Regions from separate parts of the Homo sapiens genome. Here regions 2, 3 and 4 are each linked to region 1. The links come from fine-mapping of genetic effects on gene expression. A gene starts in region 1. Each other region holds a variant in brackets. All regions are shown on one strand. Distances are from middle to middle.

Region 1 (5,678 bases):
GTTAAGATGAAGAGCTCAAGGATCCTCCAGGCTCAGTACTGACTTTTCTGCATGACCTTGGGTCCGTTGTTCAATGTCTTTGAGTCCAAGTTTAGCAGAGAGGATCCTTGCTGAAATGCTGTGTGAGCCACAATTGCAAAGCTAACAGCTCCTATGTCTTGAGCCCTTAACACAGTATCTAATACAGAGTAAGGATGTCATAGGCACTACTAACTGTGGGATATGTGCTATTATTATCCCCATTTTATAGATGAAGAAATGAAGGTCTGGAGAGATCAAGTAGCTTGCCCAGGGTGAACCTGCTAATAAGTGGTAAACCAAGTCTGTCTCATTCAGTCTGGACTGTTCTCCCCAACGTGATCAAATGGCAAACAAGGCTCTTCCCAAGTAGATGAGGACTTTTCCCAAATCACTGCAAATGAGTTTGGTACAAGAAACACAAAAAGCGTGACTTCCCAGGCTGGAGTGCAGTAGTACAATTGCAGCTCAGTGCAGCCTCAGCTCCTGGGCTCAAGTGGTTTTCCTGCCTCAGCCTCCTTGAATAGCTGGGACTACAAGGCACACACCAGCGTGCTCCGCTAATTTTTAAATTTTTTGTAGAGACAGGGGTCTCGTTTGGCCTGAAGATTTCATATTCCTGGTTTCAAGCGATAAGCCTGCCTCAGCCTCCCCAAATCCTGGGATTACAGATGTGAGCCACCACACCGAGCCGAAGTCTTTTTCTTATAGGAAAAATCATTCCTTCTAGACCAAACTTTCTTATGGAAATCTGACAAACACTATGAGGCATGGGGCCTTGAGAACTGAGAGGTGACCCACCCTAGAAGGATCTGGACATAGAAGCTGCTGTGGCCAGTGCAGGCAGTGAGTGAGTGGCCTGGGTGAGGGTAAGGCTATTCTCCCCCACACTGCACTCTCCAACTCCACCCCGTCCTAGGCCAATGGAGAAACCTGGAGTTAAAGGGACTTGGGAAAGCTGGTTTCCTTTCGGTGTCTTCCACTCCCAATTCCCTCCCTTGCTGATGAAATTGGAGATGCCAGAGGTGGGTATGAAATGGTAGCTTCTGGGTCAGAGGCTAACCTGAAAATCAGACTTTAGAAACCTGGGTGGAGGTCTGAACCACTGTAGAGATTCAAATGAGGTGCTCACAATCTCCAGATGCATTTTCTAACTGGGCAGTCAGATGACCAGCATACCCTCACTCCAATCCCCAGCACCCCACCCCCGCCATCAGCCACTACTGCCAGCACATCACAGCTACCTGGGTACTTCTTAGCCTCTCCCTTCAGATCACAGCAATAAAAACCTTCCAGATGTAGCTAAAGGCTATAAAAGCTCAGCCCTACCCATTGCCTTTCACTGTCCTGGCCACAGCCAGGGAAGTCTCTCTGCAGGATTCTAGTGCAGCCACAAGATGACATCCAGTGGGCAGGGGGTTGGGAGCCTCACAGCCTGGCCTAAGGCTAACTTTCAAGGACAAAGGGCTTGGACAGAAGATTAGATCCCCGATTCCTGATGGATCCAGCCACTAACATAGATTTTTCAGGAACAGAACACACTTGATAAAATTCTCCTAGGGTTTAGGTGGGGAGGCAGGGTGCCTAGCTTAGGCCTGCGGAGTAAGGATGGGCTACAAAGTCTTCCCATTTGTGAACGCTCACTACCCCACCCCCCATCTGCCTGCTTATGTCCAATGTCAGTGCCAACTCCGTGGCCCTGGGGCAATCAGCGGTCAAGCCTCACCCCCCAACCCCACCCACCTCTAGCGGTCAAGCCTAACCCCTCACCCCTGCTAACTATGGCAATCTGGCTGGGTCCCTAACTGACTTCCCAAACTCCGCCACCTCTCCTCTAAAGCGCCCTGTCTCTACGAGGGAGGAAAGACAGGCAGCTTCAGCAAGGGTCCCCGGGGCCCCGGGCTCCCCCAGCTATCTAATCGGCTTCACCCCTGCACTCCCCCAGGGACAGAGCCTCACAGGGCCTCTCTTTAGCTGGGGGAAGGAGACAGAACGCTCCTTTTGAATACCTAAGACTTACCCACCCTCTTTTCCTCCAGCTTTCCTGCTGCTGGGTCACTGTTAGTCACTCACCATCCAGGCCCATTTCCTGATAATCCCCCAGCCCCCTGGGTGCAAGGCCCTTCTTATTCCCTCCAACACAGACACACACACACCAAGAGCGGGCTGGTCTCTAACTCCCAAACCGTAATCTGGGACACACACCCACACACCCACACCCACCCACCCACCCACCCACCGGGCTGGTCTCTAACTCCCTAACCCTAATCTGGGCCAAAATAGGGGGGTTGGCTCGCTTCTCTGCCAGGCAGAGTGAAGGGCAGCACTTCTCCCAGAGGGAGGGGGCCTCAGCTGGGGTCTCTCTCCAGGATCCTCCTGCTGCAAGCGCCCCAGCCTTCCAGACCAAAGAGGAGACAGGGCTTCTCCCGGCTTGAGAGGGACCAGGGGCAACCAGCTCTCCCCAGAAAAGTGAAACAGAGGGAGAGGTGACAGAGGGACTCCAAAATGTCAGGGCTGGGAGGCCTCGCAGACCCCTCAGTGCCCTGTACAGGGGTGAGAAGCCAGGCCCATAGGAGGAAAGAGGCTTGCTTGCTCTAGATCACACAGGGAGAACCCACAGTGAGAGCCCACAGCGAGAACACTTCGCCTAGGACTTTCCCACTAGAGCACAGGGGAATGACTCCAAGAAGGGAGTCCAGTCGTTAGTAGGAGTTCTGGAGGAGGGTTAGCACCTGGGGGGCTCTGGGAGCGCTGGAGGAGGGAGTGAGAAAGGGAAGCAGAGGGGTTCTTTGGAGAGAATGAAGGGGTGGGCCCTGGGGAGTGGGCAAAGAGGTGTAGAGAAGAGCCCGGCGTGACCTTGGGCCAGCTGCGTCTCCCTCCTGGGCCCGTCTTTCCGTCTGCAGGCAAGAGAGCGCCTGGGATCCCGGGGGGCTCAGGCTTGAAGGTGCCACCCCGGCGAGTGAGGGCGCCTCACCTTCTTGAAGTCGGCGGTGAAGGAGACGAGGGTGCCGTCGGGCTTGCGCAGCTCGAGGCTGATGCTGTCCGCGTCGCTGTCCGCCTGCAGGCTCTCCTCGGTCACCTGGCCGTCCGGCAGCCGCACGCGGACCCGCAGCTCGGCCGGCGCACCCGTTCCCAGCAGCGGCGCGAGCAGCGGCAGCAGCAGCAGCAGCGCAGGGCGCGCCAGGGGTACCCCGGGAAGGCGCATCCCCGGGGGCCGCTGCCGTCCGCGGCCCCGGCGCGCCGCGTGGGGGCGGGGAGAGGCGCAGGCAAACTTCGCCCAAAGTTGGGGGCTAGTTCGGGGCGCCCGGGAGCCGCTCCGCCGGGGGCCTTGGCCGCGGGGTCGCCCGCGAGGTGGCGCGGACGCACGTGGGTAGCGCTCAGCAGGGCGCCCCCGGCGGCCCCGAGGCGGAGACGGCGCTGCCCCGGCCCGGCTCCGCGGCCCCGGGCTCCAGCGCTGCGAGCCTGTGTTTTGCACTTTTCATTCAATCCCACCCCCCGTCACTTCCTTCAGAAAACAGAAACCACCAGGACCCGCCTTAAAGAGACCGCGCACCTCGCGGCCCTTAAAGGGCCCGCGGCTGCTCTCCGCACTTCGGCGTTGGCCGGGCAGGGGGCGGGGAGAGGGGGCAGCGGCTCCGCGGCTTTGTGCGAGCGGCCTCCTCGACCTCCCTCCCGCCCGGCCGCGCGGAGTCAGCGACCCAGGCGGAGTCAGAAGTTTGCTCTCCCGGGGCAAATCCCTTCCTTCCAGCAGGGGCAGGACGGGTGACTCTTCCCCCGCCCTGCACCGCCACCCCCCCCCCCCGCTTTTTTTTTTTTGGCTTGCTTTTGTGCCACGTGGATGAAATAATCGGGCTTGGATTTTTAGGGGTTTTGTTTGGTCTTTCAGTTTCTCTGACAGCGAATTTCTAAAAAGCTTCTGCAAAATCAGACCTCGCTTTGCACTCTGCCTTTTCCCTGCCCCACACTGGGAGGGTGGATCGGGGGTTCTCGCCCAGCTTTGCCACGGCCAGGTGTTAGACCTTGATGGGTCAGGTCACCCACTGGGACGCGGCCCTCAGGTTTTGTGAGCCCCTGTGCCTCTTTCCTTTTCAGTCCTGCCTCCCGTGCTTCCCGCATTCACGGCCTTTCCTCAGTCCTGCCCACCACCGCAGACCCGGTTCTTTCTCTCTATTATAGACTATGAAAATCCAGGGAAATGTTGGATTCCAGGTCACTTGGGAGAATTTCCAGGGACTCGGGACGCTGGCGCTCCACGACAGTGGCTTTCCCACAAGCCACAAGGAAACATGCGTGCCCTGCGGTGCACCCCAACAATAAGAAGGGTGAAGACCAGGAGATCTGGATTGCTGCCTCCTCTGATTAGTTGTGGAATTTAGGCACGTTTTAAAAATTCTTTGGGCTTAAGTGTCCCCGTGTGTATCGTGGAAGCTGCTCAGACCTACACTGTCCTGCCAGTCCCAGGCAAGGGAAAAAGCCCCACGAAGATGCTCAAAACCAATTGTTCCCTGACTTCCATTTTCACTTCTGTTGGGACCTTGATTACTGATGGGTGAAAACTCCCTTCTCTGCAGCCTCCTTCCCTTCTAGGGCTTCCCCAGCACAGGGCCATGTGAACTGCAGGGTCCGGCTAGAATCGGCCTCTTGCTATCATCCAGGGGCCCTTCCCGCTACCCGCTCTCTGCTGCCTAGATTTAGGACTGAAGGGAATTTAAGAGACTACCAAGTCAGCCTTTTCCAAATTTGCCTTTCCTGAAGAATCACCTGGATGCTTGTTAGAAAATAGATTCCCGAATCCCTAAACCCATGGAATCAGATTCTAGGGAAAAGAACTGAGGATTAGCATTTTTGACAAGGCCCACATGATGCTCGACATAAGTGGTTGACAGCAGGTATTTGGCAGATGTTTAAGCATAGAGCGTCTGGGCCAGACGCGGTGGCTCATGCCTGTAATCCTAGCACTTTGGGAGGCCGAGGCGGGCGGATTGCCTGAGCTCAGGAGTTCGAGACCAACCTGGGCAACAAGGTGAAATCCCGTCTCTACTAAAATACAAAAGAAATTAGCTGGGTGTGGCGGCGTGCGCCTGTAATCCCAGCTACTCGGGAGGCTGGGGTAGGAGAATTGCTTGAACCCAGGAGGCAGAAGTTGCAGCGAGCCAAAATTGCGCCACTGCACTCCAGCCTGGGTGACAGAGGAAGACTCCGTCTCTACAAAACAAAACAAAACAAAACAAAACAAAAACATAGAGCATCTGAAACAAGCAGCATCCTTCCTGGAGAACCTGGCTCCTAAGGAGTTCATCTTCACATCCGGGAGATAAGGCAGGCTGTTAGGGAATAATTGGATTAGCACAAGGATTGCTCCCCTAAGGACTCCCACTCTTAGCTGGCAACCGTTTAGACTAGAGATGCCCAGGGTCTTGAAATTGGCCTCCCGCCTGACAGGATGCTGGATCTCCATGCGGCCTTGAAGCTAGGTCTCCCACATGAGTCAGCCCACACAGTCATTAAGGGCCTCGCCCACATTTCCTAACTTCCCTTGTTTCAGGTCCTGTCCCCATCCGCCACCAGCTCTGCCCTCAGCCATTTCCCAGGCTCTTACCCCTTCTCCTCCCACAACAGCCCAGAAGTGGGCAAAGAAGCCCTGGATGTCAGATTTCTTG
Region 2 (5,678 bases), 52 kb after region 1:
ACGTGGCTAAAAACCTTATTAAGACAAATAAGTGAATTTAGTAAGGTTGGAGGATACAAGGTCAATACATACAAATGCATTGCATTTCTGCATATTAGCAATTGGAAAAATAATTGGAAAAGGAAAAATTCCAATTACAATACTATTATAAATAACAAAATAGTTAAAAATTCTTTAACAAAAAGTATGCAAGAACTGTGTACTGTAAATTACAAGACATTGCTAAGTGAAATTAGAGAAGACCTAAATAAATGGAGGGATAAGCCGTATTTATGAGTGAGAAGAGGTAATTTTTGCCAAATTAATCTAAAGAGTTAATGTAATTCCAATAATAATCCTAGAAGGCTTTACTGATAGCATTTTACAGGCTTATTTTGAAAATATATAGAAGTACAAAAGACCCAAGTTATCCTGAAAAAGAAGCAAAACAAAGCTGAAGGATTTATGCTAGATTACTTTAAGACTTAGAAAACTACAGCAATCAAGACAGTGTTGTATTGGCATATATAGACAAGTGGATCAGTGAAACACAATAGAAATTCTAGAAATACGCTTGCACTAACATAGTTAATTGATTTTGGACAGAGGTGCTAAAGCAATTCTATAGAGGAAAGAAAATCTTTCAACAAATGGTGCTTAAACAATTGGACATCTTTATTCTGAAGAAAATGAAACTTGACCCCTGAACCTTATGCCATATATCAAAAAATTAATTAGAATTGGATCATAGATCTAAATATAGCAGCTTAAAATATACCTTTTTTAAAAGTAAGCATAAAATAATATTTTTAAGACTCAAAGGTTGGCAAAGATGTCTTGAATGGAACCCAGAAATCAATAATCATTAAAGAAAAAATAACATATTAGACTTCATTAAAATAAAAAAAATTTTTGCTCATCAAGAAGCATTTCTGCTTTCAGCATGATAGAGTAACAGCGACTAGATTTACCTTGCCACTTTCAACAACTAGAAAACTGGACAAAATATGTGAAAAAAATGTTTTACAGACATTAAATAATAGGCAGTGCAGGGCTGTGATCCTTAAGAGAAGGGGAACAAATGAAGAGAGCCCTACAATGGCTTATTGCCTGGAGGCAGTTTCCAGGTCACAGAGCAGGGGGAGAGAAGCAAAATACACCTGGTAGTCTCACTGAATTGAGAAGAAAGTTGCAGTTCGGGGAGGCCAAGGTGCTTGAACTTGCAGGGCAGAGTAACAAAGAGGAGAAAGTTCACAGAAACAGACAGAGGTCTGAGATCTTCATAGGTGTCCCTTGAGTCTTTGACAGGCTACTTGGATTTATACTCTGTGAGAGTAAATGACCCAAAGCTGAAGAATCACCAAAGGATGGGCAGAATTGTATAGTGGTGAAGTCTGGGCTTTTAGTATACCTGTCACCCAAATAGCATATATTGTACCCAAACAGGTAGTTTTTCATCCCTCACCCCCCTTCCACCTTCCTGCCTTCTGAGTCACTAATGTCCATTTAACCAAAAACTACTCATAACCCTAAAGCTATTGACATAATAATAATAATAAAAGAGTGGGCAGAACAGTTTCTGGAGCTTATATGGAACTTAGAATTTGTGTTCCTACCAGCCAAAGTTGAGAGATCGTATAATACATGGGACATTAGATAGAATGTTCAGAAGGGTATTGGCTTAGTACTGGGTTAAATTAATTCTAGTCTAAAGGCTGCAGTGGGCCCACTTTAATTACAAAGCTTAATCATAAGGTTTGCAAGGATCCAACTTAACTTATGCACCAGAATAAAGTCCAATACTACTTCAAAAAACACAAAAAAGTCCAGCACCCAGTGATATAAAATTGAGAATGCCCAACATTTAATTAAAATTTCTAACACAGAAATAATGAGGGAATATGACCCATATTCAGGAGATAAACCAACCAATCAAAAACAGATATAATAAAATTAGCAAACAAGAATGTTAAAAAAGTTATTATAAATATGATCCATAGGTTAGAGAAGGTAGAGGAATGCATGAACTTAATGAGAGAGAAATGAGTACTAAAAAGACTCAAATGGAACTTCTAGAAATGGAACTTCTAGAAATGCAACTATCTGAAACAAAAAATACAGTGGATGGGATTAGTGGAAAATCAGACACTGCAAGAAAAAAAGGATTAATGAACTTGAAGATTGAGCAATATAAATTATACAAAATAAAGCACATAGGGAAAAATACTGAGTTAAAAAATGAACTTCAATGACCTGTGGAGCAATGTAATTGGAGTTATAAGGGGACGATGGGAGACGGGAGAAATAGAAAAAAATTATTTCAAAAATTTATTAGTCAAATGTTCCCAAATCCAATAAAAAGTATAAACCCACAGATCTAAAAAGTTCAATGAACCCAAGTAGAATAAAAATGAAGAAAATGACATCAAGGTATATTATAATCAAATATCTGAAAATCAATGATAAAAAAATATCAAAAGCAGGCAGAGGAAAAAAAGACATCATGTACAGAGCACAAAGATAAGAATGGCAATAGAGTTCTCATTAAAAAAAAAGATGCCACTGCACCCCGGCTTGGGCGACAGAGCAAGAATAT[A/C]AAAAAAATAAGTAAATAAATAAATTTGTTCAAAAATCCAGCAGAAAAAAAGACAGCCAGAAGATAAAGGTGTGACATCTTTAAAGTACTGCATGAAGGATAACAAACGAAAAACAACCCCTGTGTCCTAGAATTCTATAGCAAGTCAAATACCTTTCATAAATGAAGATAAAATAAAGGGCTTTCAGACAAACAGAAACTGAGAAAATTCACTGCCAGTAGAACTGCACTACAAAAAAAAAACTTAGAGGAAGGTCTCAGAGAGAAGAAAAATAATACCATATGAGAATCTGACTCTACCCAAAGGAGTGAAGGACACTGAAAATAATTGAAAGATACAAGGGTAAATATAAAAATTTTTTCCTTACTCAAAAGTTTAAAAAATTTAATTGAATATTTGAAGCAACAATAACAGCATAGTATTTTGGCTTTGTAACAGGTGTAGAAGTAAAATTCTATGACAACAATATCACAAAGGATGAGAGGGAAATATAAATTGGCCTGTATATTGTTACAAAGCTTTTATACCAGGGATTGGTCAATTATGGCCCATAAGTTAAATCCAGCCATCCACCTGTTTTTCTATAGCTCATGACCTAAGAATGGTTTTTACATTTTTAAATGGTTGAGAAAAAACCAAAAGATAAATAATATTTTGTGACATGAAAATTATATGAAATTCAAATTTTAGTGTTTGTAAATAACATTTTATTGGAATACAGATCATTCATTTATGGATAAGCTGTGGCTGCTTTTGCTTCAATGGTGGAGTTAAGTAGTTGCAACAGAGACTGTATGACCCACAAAGTTTAAGATATTTAATGTCTGACACTTTATGAAAAAAGTTTACTGACACCTGTTTTAAAATATGTGAAATGGTAAAGATTATTTGAAGGTAGATGTGGTAAGCTAAAGGTGTATATTGTAAAGTGTAGAGCAACCACTAAAAATAAAATAAAGAGAAACAGCTGATATACCACAAATGGAGATAAAAAGGAATCATAAAAAGTCCTTACTTACATCCAGAGAGGGCAGAAAAGAGGGACAAAAGGAGCACAGAACAAACTGAGCTAATAACAAATAGCAAGAAGATAGGTTTTTACCCAGCAATAGTGATAATTACTTTAATTGTAAATGGTCTAAACACTTCAATTAAATGGCAGAGATTGTCATATTGGATTAAAAAAAGATTCAACTACAATGTTATTTATAGGAAATTCACTGTAATAAACGTATAAATAGATTAAAATTAAAATGATAGAAAAAAATGCCATGCAAACACTAATGAAAAGATATTGAGGAGACTATATAAATAATGTTCAAAGTAGACTTTGAATACTACAAAGAACAAAGAAATATTTCCTAATGAAAAAGAGGTAAAATAATCAATAGGACAAAAATCTGAAATGTTTATGCATTTAATAACAGAGCTTGAAACTATATGAAGCAAAAACTGATCTGAAAAGAGAAATAGATATGTTCACAATTATAGTTGAAGGTTTTAACACTCTTCTCTCAGTAACTGACAAAACAAGTAGAAAGAATATCAGTTAGGGCATAAAATATTTGAACAACAACATCAATTAACTTGACCTAATTGACATTTTATAGAGTACTGTATCCAACAAATCAGAACATACATTCTTTTCAATTGTACAAGTAAGATCGATCTACCAAGATAGATTTCTGGAACAGGTCTCAAGATTTAAACAGTGTGAAATCATAGAAAATATGTTCTCTGACACCAGTGAAATAAAAGCAGAAATCAATAAGCAAAATATATCTAGAAAATCCCCCAAATATTTGGAAATTGGACAGCAGATTTTGAAATAAACCAAATCAAAAGGATAATTAGAAAATGTTTTGAACTGAATAAAAAAGCATACAGGGCTCTCTCTCTGCTGCCACCATGTAAGACAAGCCTCGCTTCCTCTTCACCTTTTGCCATGATTGTAAGTTTCCTGAGGCCTTATCAGCCATGTGGAACTCTTTGGGTTGCAGGCCATACTCCTGTGCAAATGCTTCACTGGCCAAAATTGCCACTGCAGCACCATCTGAGGTAGGACTAAGAGAAAGTGGAAATAATTCTCCACACCCAGTACCACCTTAATCATAGGATTTCAGACTAGGAGTTCCTTCTATGTGAGAAGAAAGGCCAATACGATTGCTGGTCAGTAGATTATCTTTTTTTGCAATACCTGCAGTTGTAAATCACACATACTTCCCACTTGAGGACTGAACCTCTGTTAAGAACTTAAGTGTTGTCAGTCACTACTTGGCATCTAAGAGTCCCAAAAAGTTGTTATTGCAAAGAATCACCAATTTGCCTCTGGAGATGCATAAGGCATCTTCTGGGGACTTCTAAGGCGTGAGTCCAAAGGTGATCCCTATCCTGGTAGAAAAAAGATTCTACTATAGACGAAAAAAAGCATGTAAACAAAGTTTCTTGGATGTAGCTAAATCAATGCTTAGATAGAGACATATAGTATTATATGCTTTTATTAGAAAAACATGTTCTAAAATCAATCACCTGAGCTACTGCCAAAAGAAACTAGACAAGAGAAAATTAAATCCAATTAAACCCCATGAAGGAAATAAAAAGATGAAAACAGAAATCAATGAAATATTAAAAAATGAGAGAAAAATAAAAATCTAAGAAATCTCAAATATATCGTTTGGAAAGTATTTTAATTGCTTCCTATTAACCAAGTAGGTGACAGAGAAATTCCCACCCTAGGGTTATGGGGATGACACAATGCCTGACACCAGATGAAACTGACAACAGTTTGTTAGTTACATATACTCATAGCCAGCAGGAGGAGGACACCACATCTCATGCAGGGGTGTTGCACTTGGGAACAGAAATGAACAATCACATGGGGGTTGTACTTGTGAGCAGAGAACAACCAGAGGCTGTGGGGGCCAGGCTGTAGCACTAAGAGAATGGGGTGGCCCATGGTTCCTGCAGGAGGCTGTGATTGCCTTGTTTAACTGCACCTGGTTCTCTTTATTAAGAGGATTTGGCTAGGGGTTAGGAGCAGAGTGGAATGAGGAACTTGGGGCTAGGCTAGATGAGGCCCTCCTGTTTTCATCAGGTGTCAAG
Region 3 (5,678 bases), 21 kb after region 1:
TGACCTGTGGGGTCTAGGGTGGAAAGGAGCTGGCTGGCCAAGGACTTGCCTGTGGTGTTCGAGTAGGCATGTAAACACCCATGAGAAGAGTGTTCACACCTGGGGTGCAAATGGGGGGAGGCAGGAAGCAGGGAAGGGTGGCCACATGTGGCAACCTTTGCTGGCCAAGGAGGCAGAGGTGCCTCTGGTGGAAGAAGACCTTGGGATCGGCCAGCAGCAGCCGTGAGGCACATCTGAACCCTCTCCCCGCACAGGCCCCATACAGTGGGGACTGCTGGCTCTGAGCCTCCCTGGGGCACACAAAGAAGGTTTACCTTTGCCCAAGCTGGTTGGCAAGACCCAGGTCCCATCCTGTCCCAGTGAAGGGTGAGGACTCTGGACTTCTCTGGCTCTGTGTGCTCCCTCTGGTCCCAACACAGCGGAGGACTGGCCCCTGCCTGCCTCTGGGGCCGCTCTGGTGGTAGTCAAGGTGAGTTCAAGGTCAGCAGCATGCTGCCACAGCCGCAAGCCGGCCTCGTAGCTCCTCCCTCAGGCCCCAGCCCTGGAGCACTCTGGAGCCGATCATGGGAGGAGGATCTTTCCTGAACTTTGTCTCTGGAGGGCCCAAGCCAGTTCTACCGTTGGTGTGTCCATTTGCAGAGGGGCGCCTGGTACCAGTCCTCCCCTGAGGGGCAATGCCCCCGGAACTACAGCTGGGGAAGGGCAGCAGGTCTGGAAACAAGCCAAGAGCACCCCGTCTGGTGCCGGTGGACTTTCTTGCATGAATTGGCAGCTCCGTCAAGCTTTGGCATCAATTCCAAAAGTGGAGCATTGGGGCTTGTCCTGTCACCTGGAGATTCTGAGCACATATTTACAGTTTACAGAAGTAGAAACAAAAGTAACCCTTTTATCTCCTCAGAGGAAGCTGGCCCTTCCACTGAGTACAGGAGCCGGAGACAATGTAACCTTCCCTGAGAAGATACTCTTTGGGGTAGGAGGCAGCTGTCTAGACGTGGCACCACCGAATGCACCCTAGCAAATCAGGAAAATCTCTTTTTCCTTTTTTTTCTTTTTTTCTGAGACAGAGTCTTGCTCTGTCGCCCAGGCTGGAATGCAGTGGCGCGATCTCGGCTAACTGCAAGCTCCACCTCCCGGGTTCACACCATTCTCCTGCCTCAGCCTCCGGAGTAGCTGGGACTATAGGCGCCCGCCACCACGTCCGGCTAATTTTTTTGCATTTTTAGTAGAGACGAGGTTTACACCGTGTTAGCCAGGATGGTCTCGATCTCCTGACCTCGTGATCCTCTCGTCTCGGCCTCCCAAAGTGCTGGGATTACAGGCATGAGCCACCGTGCCCGGCCATCTCTTTTTCCTTAAAATGCTCAACTGGTGTGTGCAGAACTCCCCCTTGCCTCAGCAACTGGGAGGAGTGCCTTGAAATGGCAGCGTGGGTCAGGAGCTGGGGCTCTGGGTCTAAGTGCCAGGTCGGCCATCTGCAGGAAGGAGCAGCAGCAAGATTCTCTACTGAGCTGGGCCCTGCTTTCCTCACCCGGTGGGGAATGTCTTTCAGCTGCGGGAGGTTATTTGTGACTGCCATCTTTTTCTCTTCTCTTCTTTTTTTTCAAAAAAAAAAAAAAAATCTTTGTGAGAAAAACCCCACCGTTCCACTTGTTTTCTCCGAGCCGTTTTGTTAGTTGAGGTGTTTGCATGCTGAGCAACACACACTAATATTTTCCTCCTCGTCAAAACATTAATTATCCCACCCAGGAACCTTTCTCTTGGATGTTTTTTCTTTACCACCCCTTAAGCTGTTGGGCACCAAGCGATTCCTGTATTTCCCATCATCTCAGCAAGCTGACTGTGATGTTTAAGGAGAGAGAGGCCCCCTTGGCTGGGTGCGGACCCTCCTTTGTGCTCTGTGGCACCCAGTAGTCAGGATGCAGTACTCAGGAGAGCTCCTGTCCCCCTGCTTCTCACTCTATGTGCGAACCATCTGTTTACATCTCTTGTCGTCTCCCACGAGGCTGTGAACGTCCTCATGTCTGTATTCCCGACACCCAGGACAGTGCCTGGCACAGAATAGTGGCCCTACAAATGTTTGCTGCACAAGCACATAAATGAATGAAAATGAAGATAGAATAATAAACACGCAGTAGGAGGAGTCAGGGTTCAAATCAGCCCCCCTGGTTGGGCCCCGCCCCCCAGCCTCCATCTCTTGCCTGTTCATAGAGGGAGCAGTTGTAAGCACAAGTTGGGTCCTTTGCTCTCCCTAGCACTTGGGAAGCCCCATCCTCTCTCCCTGCTTGAGGCCATTCTCAGCTGCCAGACAGCCAGTGTGTTCAGGGGGAGCCCAGTTTCCTCCTCCCTGGTCTCCCCTTGGTTGAGAGTAAGATGGGACAGCAGGGAGAATTCAGAACTTTAGAGTCTGGAAATTAGGGAGGCTCCAGGGAACAAATGCAGAGCTCGACAGGACCTTAGCAATCACTGGAGCCAGCTCCTCCCCTCCTCCCGCTTCAAAGACAAGCCTCCCAGAGGGCTGAGATGTCTGGTTCATGGTCACCTACAGGTGAGAAGTGGGGCTGGGATTCAGGCCCTGGGCAGTTATCAAGAAACAAGAGCCTCCTAATTAATTCTGAGTACAGGGCCTTTCTAGTCCCTCCTGCTACCGTGTTCTGTGCCACAGTGAGGAGGGCATGGCCTCATCATCTCCCTGTGTGCAGCGCAAACTCCTTTCATCTCCCTTTCAGCTCATTTGATCCCCACAGTGCTCTTCTGAAGTAGGCAGAGTGATGATTTCTCCATTTTGCAGATGAGGAAATTGTGGTGCAGAAAGCGTAACGGAGCTGCCTAAGGTAGCAGAGCTGTCCTGCGGTAGAGTTAGGGCTGCAGTCCTGCATCCAGAGCCCTGTGCCTGCACCCACCACATGCTCTTTCCAGGTCAGATCTCTCTGCTGCTCTGCCCCTTCCCACTAGGAGCCTGAGCATCTGATTCGACTTGGCTCCAACAGAGATACCAGATGTCCTGTAGTCAAGACCAGAGCCCAGGATCCCTCCTTCCCAGCTATGGCCAGGACTCTGCAGACAGTGGACCTCTCCGTGAAGGCCCAGAGCTTTCAGCCCTAGGCCCAGGGGCTGAAGGGCTGGCGAGTCTTCGTTGTTGAGATTAAAGCCCTTCTCCAACTGGAGAACATTTAAAATGAAACCTCCCCGTTGCATTTGTCCTGCTCAGTTTTGGAAAGTGGGCAGGTAGCTCACGAGAGGGTTCTCGTTCAGCCCCTGCCTGGCCTTACCACCC[T/C]CTTCTTTGGCCCTAAAATCAAGTGAGCTATTCTTTAGCAAGGGTGAGACACTAGGCACTGGCTTGGTCCACTTCGAAAGGGTAGAAGGGGGCTCCTAGGAAGGTATGAGCGATCTAGCCACTTCCCTCTCCATTCTGCATGCCGTACTGTCCTCCGTGTGTGCTTTAGAGAAAGGTAATGGTATGGCTGTTCCATGCAAATGTGTTTTCTCAAAGACATGACTTTTGTACCATAAGCTGTTTCCATCTAGGACCTATTTCTGTGGGATGGTCTGAGGGTGAAGCTAAGGAGAGAAGGCATATGTGAATTTATTTTGTTTATCTGAACATCTGTGTTTGGCCGGCCCCACCCCTACAATGTAAGCTAAAATGCTGTATAATAGGTTTATGTATGTACCTATACTGCCAAAGGTCATGGTTGAATCCTGTGACTAGGTAGAGTTTACCTGTCAATTGGCTAAATCAGAGACCCATATGTTTCATAGTCAAGGAGATTCTGCAGCATAAATGGCTGGCCCAGGGACCACTGGCCTGTATGCATCACTGCCCTGCTCATAAACCTCATGGCTCCCCACTGGCAAATGTTGAGTCCACCTTCCTCAACCTGTATTCAAGGCCTGCCATCATCTTCTTCCTGCCAGACTGGCCTTCAGGTCCTGTGCCTTGGCAGGTGAGCTTTTCCCCTGCCTCCCTTCTCTCTCTCTCTCTCTCTCTCTTCCTCCTTCCCTCCCTGTCTCCCTTTCTTCCTCCCTTTAAAGAGCACCAGACACTGTTTTAAGTGCTGGGGACACAGTCACTAAGTGTGGTGGACAAGACACAGGAGGCTTTAGCTTACGTTGTAGAGGTGGAGACAAAAGAAAACAGATATTCAAATAAACAAGATAAATTCAGATAAGTGCTATGAATACAATAAAACAAGATGATGTGCTACAGCAGGGGTTCCCCCACCGCCCATGCTCCTCAACGTTAGATTCTCAAAGGATGTGAACCCTATTGCGAATTGCACACTCCTTATGAGAATCTAATTCCTGATGATCTGAGGTGGTACAGTTTCATCTTCAAACCATCCACTTCCTGCCCTCCCATCCGTGGAGACATTGTCTTTCATGAAACTGGTTCCTGGTGCTAGAGAGCTTTGTGGGTAGGAGTGAGGCTGAATTCTCCCTACCCCCATGGCCTTCACAGGTAAATGCTGCCCATTGGTCAAAGCCTGCCCACATGTCACCTCTTCCAGGAAGCCTGCCTGCCTTCTCAGCTTGGCAGTGTTCTCTCCCACCACTGGACTCCAGAGCACTTTATTCCGCTCCCTTGCAGGGTGTGGAGTGGCTTGCAGCACAGTCCATGGTCATCCTTGCTGCTGGGCTGTAAGTTCCTTAAGGGTGGAGAAAGCACCTCTTTCAGCCCCTGCCTCCCACTTCCCCGGCACTTCCCTGGCACAGAGTAGCTGGTTAATAAGAGTTTGCTGAGAAAATGTGCAAGGATATCTCCTACCTCAGAGGGCAAAGAGCAGCCGGGGCCCATCCCCAGGGTCACCTGCTGAGAAGAGGCCACTTTTCTCCCTGGAGAGGGACAGAGGAAGGGGTATAGTTGAATGGGAGAATTTATGCCCAGGGCAGGAGGTGGTGGGTGGGTTCAACTCACCAAGGTAATCCTGTTGGACAGGAACACCTCACACTCTTCTAAACCTTTACAGACTTTGCTCTGATGAGAGGCCTAAGAAGAGTGTCATGCCCCTTCCTTGGCTTGGGGAAGTCTGGACCTGTGTGTAGGGGCGTGGGGTGAGGTGGGGTCGGTGTGCATTGTGCCAGGGTGTATGGCTCAGAGCATGTGTGCAGTGAGGTGTTTGTGAGGTGTCTGTGACTGTGGTCCTAGAACTGTGGGCATAGGATGTGTGAGAGAACAAGTGAGTGCGTATGTGAATGTGGTGGTGAGGTGCGTGCAGGGTGGCTGGTTTGTGTAGTGTCTTTGTGTGTTTGGATGTTGAGTGGTGGGCTGGTGGTGGTGGGGGTGTGTGTGTATCTGTGGTACAGCCCGTGGGGTTGGGGGACAGGGAAGGGTGGAGCAGCAGTGGCCTGGGCTCTGGGGGGCCAGCATCTGTGGTATTAGGGCTCAGAAAATGATACCCACAAAGATGGCACTTTGACATGCTGAATTGAAGAAGCAGCCTCCAGGTCTCTCTGACCTACCTCCCACAAAAGCCCCTGTCTCTCCCAAAGCACAGGATGAGGCTGTCTTCTGAAGCTCCCATATCGAACTGGAAACTGGACTCCCAAGCAGGAGCAGAATTGCCTTCGATCCCTCTCCTGAAATTTCATTAATCAGAGGAGATGAAAACTCCTACCACAGAGGAAGAGACTGATCACGAAACACCACATCTAGAGCCCAAACTGTGTCTCAAACTATT
Region 4 (5,678 bases), 67 kb before region 1:
GGGACACAGAAACAGCACCTGAGCCCCAGGGTGGCCTCCAAAGCCGCTTAAGGGTCAGACTAGGGGGAAGGAAGCTTTAAGGTGGAAAAAGTTTATTTTTAGCCAAGGCTATGATTCTGGGAGAAGACGACTCTCTGGTTGGTTACAAGAGCTGCAGGCAGAGCCCTCTTTGACTTGGGGGCAAAGAGAAAGCCAGGGCCCGCCCCCTCCCTGCAGGCACACACAGGCAAACACTGCCTCTTCCCTGGACCCTTCTCACGCACAGGCCCAGGGAGGCGGCTTCTCGAAGGGCCAGGGGAACCCTCTTTGGGTGGGAACACTTCTCCACCCCACCCTTTACCTGGCAACCCTCCCTGAGCCTGCAGATACTATCTCTACCATCTCTGCTGGCAAGCCTCAGCCAGAAGAGGTCTGCGGGTGTTGGTATGACTGACAGGGCTTTGGAAACATGGAAAAGTACTGGACACATGTCAAGTGAGGGGCTCTGGGTAACATTAGGTCATGTCTCATTTGCAGGAGTGCACACACACAAACACACTCTCTCTCTCTCTCTTTTTCTCTCTCTCTCTCTGTCTGTCCTCTTTCTCTCAAAAGCAGCCTGGTATGGTAGAAAGTCAGACAGGCCTGTCTTACATCTGAGCTCCACCTTGGGCAAGTTACTTAACCTCTCTGAGCTACAGTTTCCCCAGCTTTATAATGGGAAGAATAATGCTTACCTCACCAGGCTGTTGTAAGGATTAATTAGGTAATCTCAAGTAAGATATCACCTATGTAAAGTGCCTGGCACAGCACTTCAACTTTGGTTTGAATTCTGGCTCTAAGCAGGTTGCTTGACCTCTCCTAGCCTCAGTTTCTTCATCTTTAAAATGGAAATATAAAATCTACTGCTCTGGGTGGCTATAGGTTTAAATGAGATACTGCTTGCAAAGCACTCAACCCACTGCCTGTTATAAACTGAAGGTTCAATAAATAGTATTAACTTCCCCTGTTATTGTTTGGGGCTAAATCCAGCTTCCCTTTCAAAAGCCTTGCTCCAAAGAGACGCCTGCTTGAAAAAGGGAAGGCCTGGCCCTGCTTTTAGTGTCATCAGTGTCTGCATCCACCAAAGGCAACTCACTGAAATCTCCAGAGAGAAGCCACTTTTTGGCTCCTGCACAATCAGGTGAAGGACCCCTACCTTCTTCTCCCTCCTTCATTCTCACTGTTCTCCACCCAACACCTGAGCCAAGACGAGCATTCGGTCTCCGCTACCCATCCAGAATGCATGCAGAGCTCATGCCAGTGCTGGAGCCGGAATCAGCTAGGCCCAAACCCCATGCTGCAGAGGGGCTTTTTGGTGGTGTTTGGGGCTGTCTGGTAGACCAGCAAGTACTAGGCACAGGCTTCTGGAGAACTCAGACAGCTGTTCCTGTTCCTCTGTGCTGTTCATTATGGGGCTTGCCACAGGGCTTGGTCCACCCAGTACTGGGGCTGCTGCCCAGGCTACAAACAGGAAACAGTTGACACCTGAGCCTCAGGCCAAAGCACCAAGCATGGCTGGCAAAAGAGGACAAATTCCCACCTCTCCAAAAACAAACACGTTTACCAACTGCTTCCCCGCCCACGCTTGCAGAGGGCGGTGGGGCTGAGATTGGGAGATGATGGATTCCAGAAAAAAATTACCTCTCTAATAGCATCTGCAGCCCTCCAACCTGGTGCAAGCCCAGCTAAGTAACCACACAGGGAGAAGGGTGGTGGAGAAAATGATGGGTTCTTATTCATCAGAAAATAATAAGAGCTAATGTTTATTGGTGCGTTATTGTATACCAGACATTATTCGAAGTACTTTATAGATCTTAACTCTATTCATTCTTACGCCATCCCTAGGAAATAGATACTCTTACTGTTCTCATCTTCACATGAGGAATCAGAGGCGCAGAGGAGTTGACCAATACAGACAATATGACCCAACCACCATATCACACGGCCTCCTCCCGAGACAAGCAGGCAGTGGTGGGGGGAGAACCACAGAGTCGGGAGTCTGGCAAGCCTGTCTTTAAATACAGACTTCTCTGTGAACAGTGTTATGATGGGAAAATTCCCTAACCTCTCAGTGCCTCAGTTTTCCCATCTATGGAATAGGAATGATGACAACTACTTCACAGGGTTGCTAAACCCTTTTATACTCAATGCCCGGCATACAGTCAGAGTTCAAGAAATGCTATAATTATTATAGTATCTTGACTACAATGGGGACATCACTTTGGAGAAGGGAGTTATTTAATCTTTTTTTATATATACTTTAAGTTCTGGGATACATGTGCAGAATGTGCAGGTTTGTTACATAGGTATACACGTGCCATGATGGTTTGCTGCACCCATCAACCCGTCATTTTATCAGGTATTTCTTCTAATGCTATCCTTCCCCTTGCCCTCCACCCCCTGACAGGCCCTTGTGTCCATGGAGAGTTATTTAATCTTGCCAATTATCTCCTGCCTGAACATTCTGCTCCATATCCACCTAATCACTCAGTCAGCGCAGCTCATTCCCTGTGGGGGTGGCGCTGGTTTACACACCCCTTGCTCTGACATTTTTAGGAATTTTTCAGACCCATCTCCCTCACTGGATAAACAGCAAGTAAGTTCTCTGAGGGCAGAGGCTGTATGCATTCTTTCTGGGGGCGCCTTTTCCTGGTGTTGTATTTCTATGTGGAAAGTCTCCAGCCAGTCACATCTGGCTCTGTCTCCTGGTAAGAGAAGTGACTTATCCCCTTGGTGGGTCAAGGTCACTCGTTCTCACTGGGGATCACAGCTACCCCGGGAGATGTTTTCTGAAATCTGTGGCGTGGTTTCTCTGGCTGTCTTAATAATTAGGAGGCGTGGTTTGCATTTATTGGGCTGAGGGCAGGTA[C/T]TCTAGACATCTTGCGCTGTAGAAGACAGTATCAAATAAACACTTCTTTGCATCCCATACAACTTTTTATATGACTTCCAAGTGCCCCACCGGACATCTGTGTCGGTGAACAGCCTGACTATAATCATATAAGCCCAAAACCCAACTCTATTTTTTATGTGAACACAAAGTATCTTTTACACACTCTTAATATGCATTTTACCCAGGGATGCCATTTTCTGTGTTAATTGAGGAAGTATTAGATTTGGCTGGAGCTTTACAAAGAGTTGTTTAACACTTTGAAAGATTGTGGCTTTTGAGCAGCCAGGATAGCATACCAATATCAGCCTGTACTTGTGTCTGTCACACTCATAGAGGCATGAGGGACCTACTGTCTCATTAAACCTTTTAGGGGAATATGTCTAAGGATATACCTGCTGAAATACACATTGTTTTATAAATTACTTTGCTTTTTCCTTTTTATTCAAATTAGACAATATTACTGATTTTTATTTGTATATCTGTTTTTTCTTTTTTGTAACGGAGTCTCGCTGCTGCCCATGCTGGAGTGCAGTGGTGTGATCTCAGCTCACTGCAACCTCCGCCTCCCGGATTCAAGTGATTCTTGTGCCTCACCCTCCTGAGTAGCTGGGTCTACAGGCATAAGCCACTGCGCCCGGCTAATTTTTTTTTTTGCAATTTTAGTAGAGATGGGGTTTTACCACGTTGGCCAGGCTGGTCTGGAACTCCTGACCTCAGGTGACCCACCTGCCTCAGCCTCCCAAAGTGCTGGGATTACAGGCGTGAGGCACCGCACCTGGCCTATGTTTTCTATAAATTTCACTCTAAGATATTAAAGGGGTTTTACAGGAGCCTCATTACAAGAGACACTGGATCTGATAAAACTGAGAACATCAGGGTTAGAAGGAGGTGGAGGGTGTGGCTTGGTCCCATATGGGCCTTCTGTCCAGATCTGCCTGTTGACTAGGAGGGTGCTTTTTAAAATTTTTTTATTTTTTATTTTTTGAGACAGAGTCTGGCTCTATCACCCAGGCTGGAGTGCAGTGGCACGATCTCGGCTCACTGTAACCTCTGCCTCCTGGGTTCAAGTGATTTTCCTGCCTCAGCCTCCCAAGTAGCTGGGATTACAGGCGTGCACCACCATGCCCGGCTAAACTTTTTTGGATTTTTAGTAGCTAATTTTTTTGTATTTTGTATTTTTAATATTTTTTTGTATTTTTGTATTTTTAGTATTTTTATTTTTGTATTTTGTATTTTTGTATTTTTTAGTAAAAAATGCATATTTTTGTAATTTTGTATTTTGTATTTTTTATAGAGGTGGGGTTTCACCATGTTGGCCAGGCTGGTCTTGAACTCCTGACCTCAGGTGATCCACCCACCTCGGCCTCCCAAAGTGCTAGGATTTCAGGTGTGAGCCACTGCACCCGGCCAGGAGGGTGCTTTCAGGTCTGTTTTCTGCCGGCTCTATCTGTGCCTAGTGGATGTGTTTAATTCTGCAGTGAGGTCTTAGAAAGCCTGTTGTGGCCAGGCATCAAAACCGTATCTCCAACATAGCTCTATCTGTCAGGCTCCTGCATTTAAATTTCTGCTTTGACATTTTGGAGGGGAGAGAGAGGTTATTATAGACTGACCCTGAAAACCCAGCTGTACTGCTTAGGGTTGAGCAAAATGTGGTTTGTTGGCTCCTCATCCTCTTCTCTTTCTTAGCCTGCCCCGCCCTGCCCTGCCCCACCACCCCCAAATCCTGTGTCCACCAGGAAGTACAGGACTGGAGGCTGGATCCTGGAACAGAAGCAAGCAATCCTCAGGGGAACAAGAGTCTTTCAGCCCTCAGTTCTCATCCTCCCAAAGAGGTCTCGGAGCCTCCCTCCATTGGACCCACTACCCTGAGGCTCTATTCTCCTGGCATGGCTTTCTTAGGCCCTCTGAACCAGCCCCACTGACCTCCCTCTCTGCGGCAGACCCTACATCTTCCCCACTGGGCTGGGAGCTCCTGTGGGCAGGGACCATGATGTACTCTTCTGTGTCTTCCTAATAGTCAGCTAAGTGCAGGTTTGTGGAACTAAACAATCCAACATGGCCTATTCATTCCCTCCCTTGCTCTCTCAGGCTCAGTGGCTTTGGTGCTTGCTGTCCTGAGGCTGCTCCTGGTTGTGGGGGGGCACTTACTCTGCCATCACCACGGACCCTCCGTTGCCAACTCCAGGGCCTGGCACTGCTGCCCCTGCATTTCCCTCACTGGCCTCCCTGAAGAAACCTCTCCATCATTCTGGGTCCTTGGAGACCTTTCCGTACCTGAATCTTGTTGATTTTAAAGAAGATGCCCCAACGAGCCAATTAATTACAAGTCAATTTGTACTCGGAGCAGCTAGAGAACCGTGGTAGTTGGTTGGTCACATTCAACAAAACAATGATGGAAAATCCCAGTTGGTTTAAAACTAAATGCTACACTAGGGCACACCAGGGCAACTCCTCAGGACGAGCTGGCGCAGGTGTCCAGAAACAGGCATGGGAGAGCCATTGGTGCAGGTGAGCTTAGAATGCTGCCAAGTGTGGGGCTGAGAGGAAACCCCAGGCCACTGATTCTCAGCTTTTGGGGCAGGAAACGTGGGACAAGGACAGCTGCCAACTTGCTTCAGACTCTCTTCTGGCCTCACAGGACTTTTGGGAGGTCTTCAAGCAACACAATGCTCAACAGCATACATAAAACACTGTCCTGATCTGCCTGGTGGAAATCCATGGCCCTGGAAGATGAGGGTTCCAGAAGTTACCGGAACAGAGCAGGTGT

Direction of the effects. Alleles are on the strand shown, and positions count from the first base shown. SD is a standard deviation of normalised expression in the study named. Not every link is listed here.
For the expression in prefrontal cortex of the gene that starts at base 3,471 in region 1, allele C in region 2 goes with a lower level than allele A (moderate effect, 0.42 SD a copy in CommonMind).

Evidence for each region. PIP is the estimated chance that this variant, and not a neighbour inherited with it, causes the effect.
Region 2: its variant is the best candidate, but not a certain one, in a credible set for the expression of OAF in prefrontal cortex (CommonMind, PIP 0.78).
Region 3: its variant is the best candidate, but not a certain one, in a credible set for the expression of OAF in atrial appendage (GTEx, PIP 0.69).
Region 4: its variant is the best candidate, but not a certain one, in a credible set for the expression of OAF in whole blood (TOPMed, PIP 0.72).

What each region holds. Positions count from the first base shown.
Region 1 is chr11:120,208,825-120,214,502 of GRCh38, reverse strand. OAF (out at first homolog) reads right to left here and starts at 3,471. Exons shown (of 4, transcript NM_178507.4): 1 at 2,993-3,471. The coding sequence starts at 3,223. RefSeq lists silencers at 3,154-3,263, 3,354-3,403, 3,584-3,843 and an enhancer at 4,177-4,718.
Region 2 is chr11:120,156,417-120,162,094 of GRCh38, reverse strand. No RefSeq gene overlaps it. Among named protein-coding and RNA genes, the nearest start is that of TRIM29, 21 kb to the right of the region's middle. The variant A/C (reference allele first, on the strand shown) is at 2,576.
Region 3 is chr11:120,188,084-120,193,761 of GRCh38, reverse strand. LOC105369530 (a long non-coding RNA gene) reads right to left here. Exons shown (of 3, transcript XR_948101.2): 1 at 4,916-5,678; 2 at 4,766-4,833; 3 at 2,491-4,646. Among named protein-coding and RNA genes, the nearest start is that of OAF, 20 kb to the left of the region's middle. The variant T/C (reference allele first, on the strand shown) is at 3,275.
Region 4 is chr11:120,275,508-120,281,185 of GRCh38, reverse strand. All of the region lies in intron 3 of POU2F3 (POU class 2 homeobox 3), which reads right to left. It overlaps LOC105369531 (a long non-coding RNA gene), which reads left to right. Exons shown (of 4, transcript XR_007062924.1): 3 at 5,550-5,674. Among named protein-coding and RNA genes, the nearest start is that of POU2F3-AS1, 12 kb to the right of the region's middle. RefSeq lists a silencer at 4,812-5,001. The variant C/T (reference allele first, on the strand shown) is at 2,891.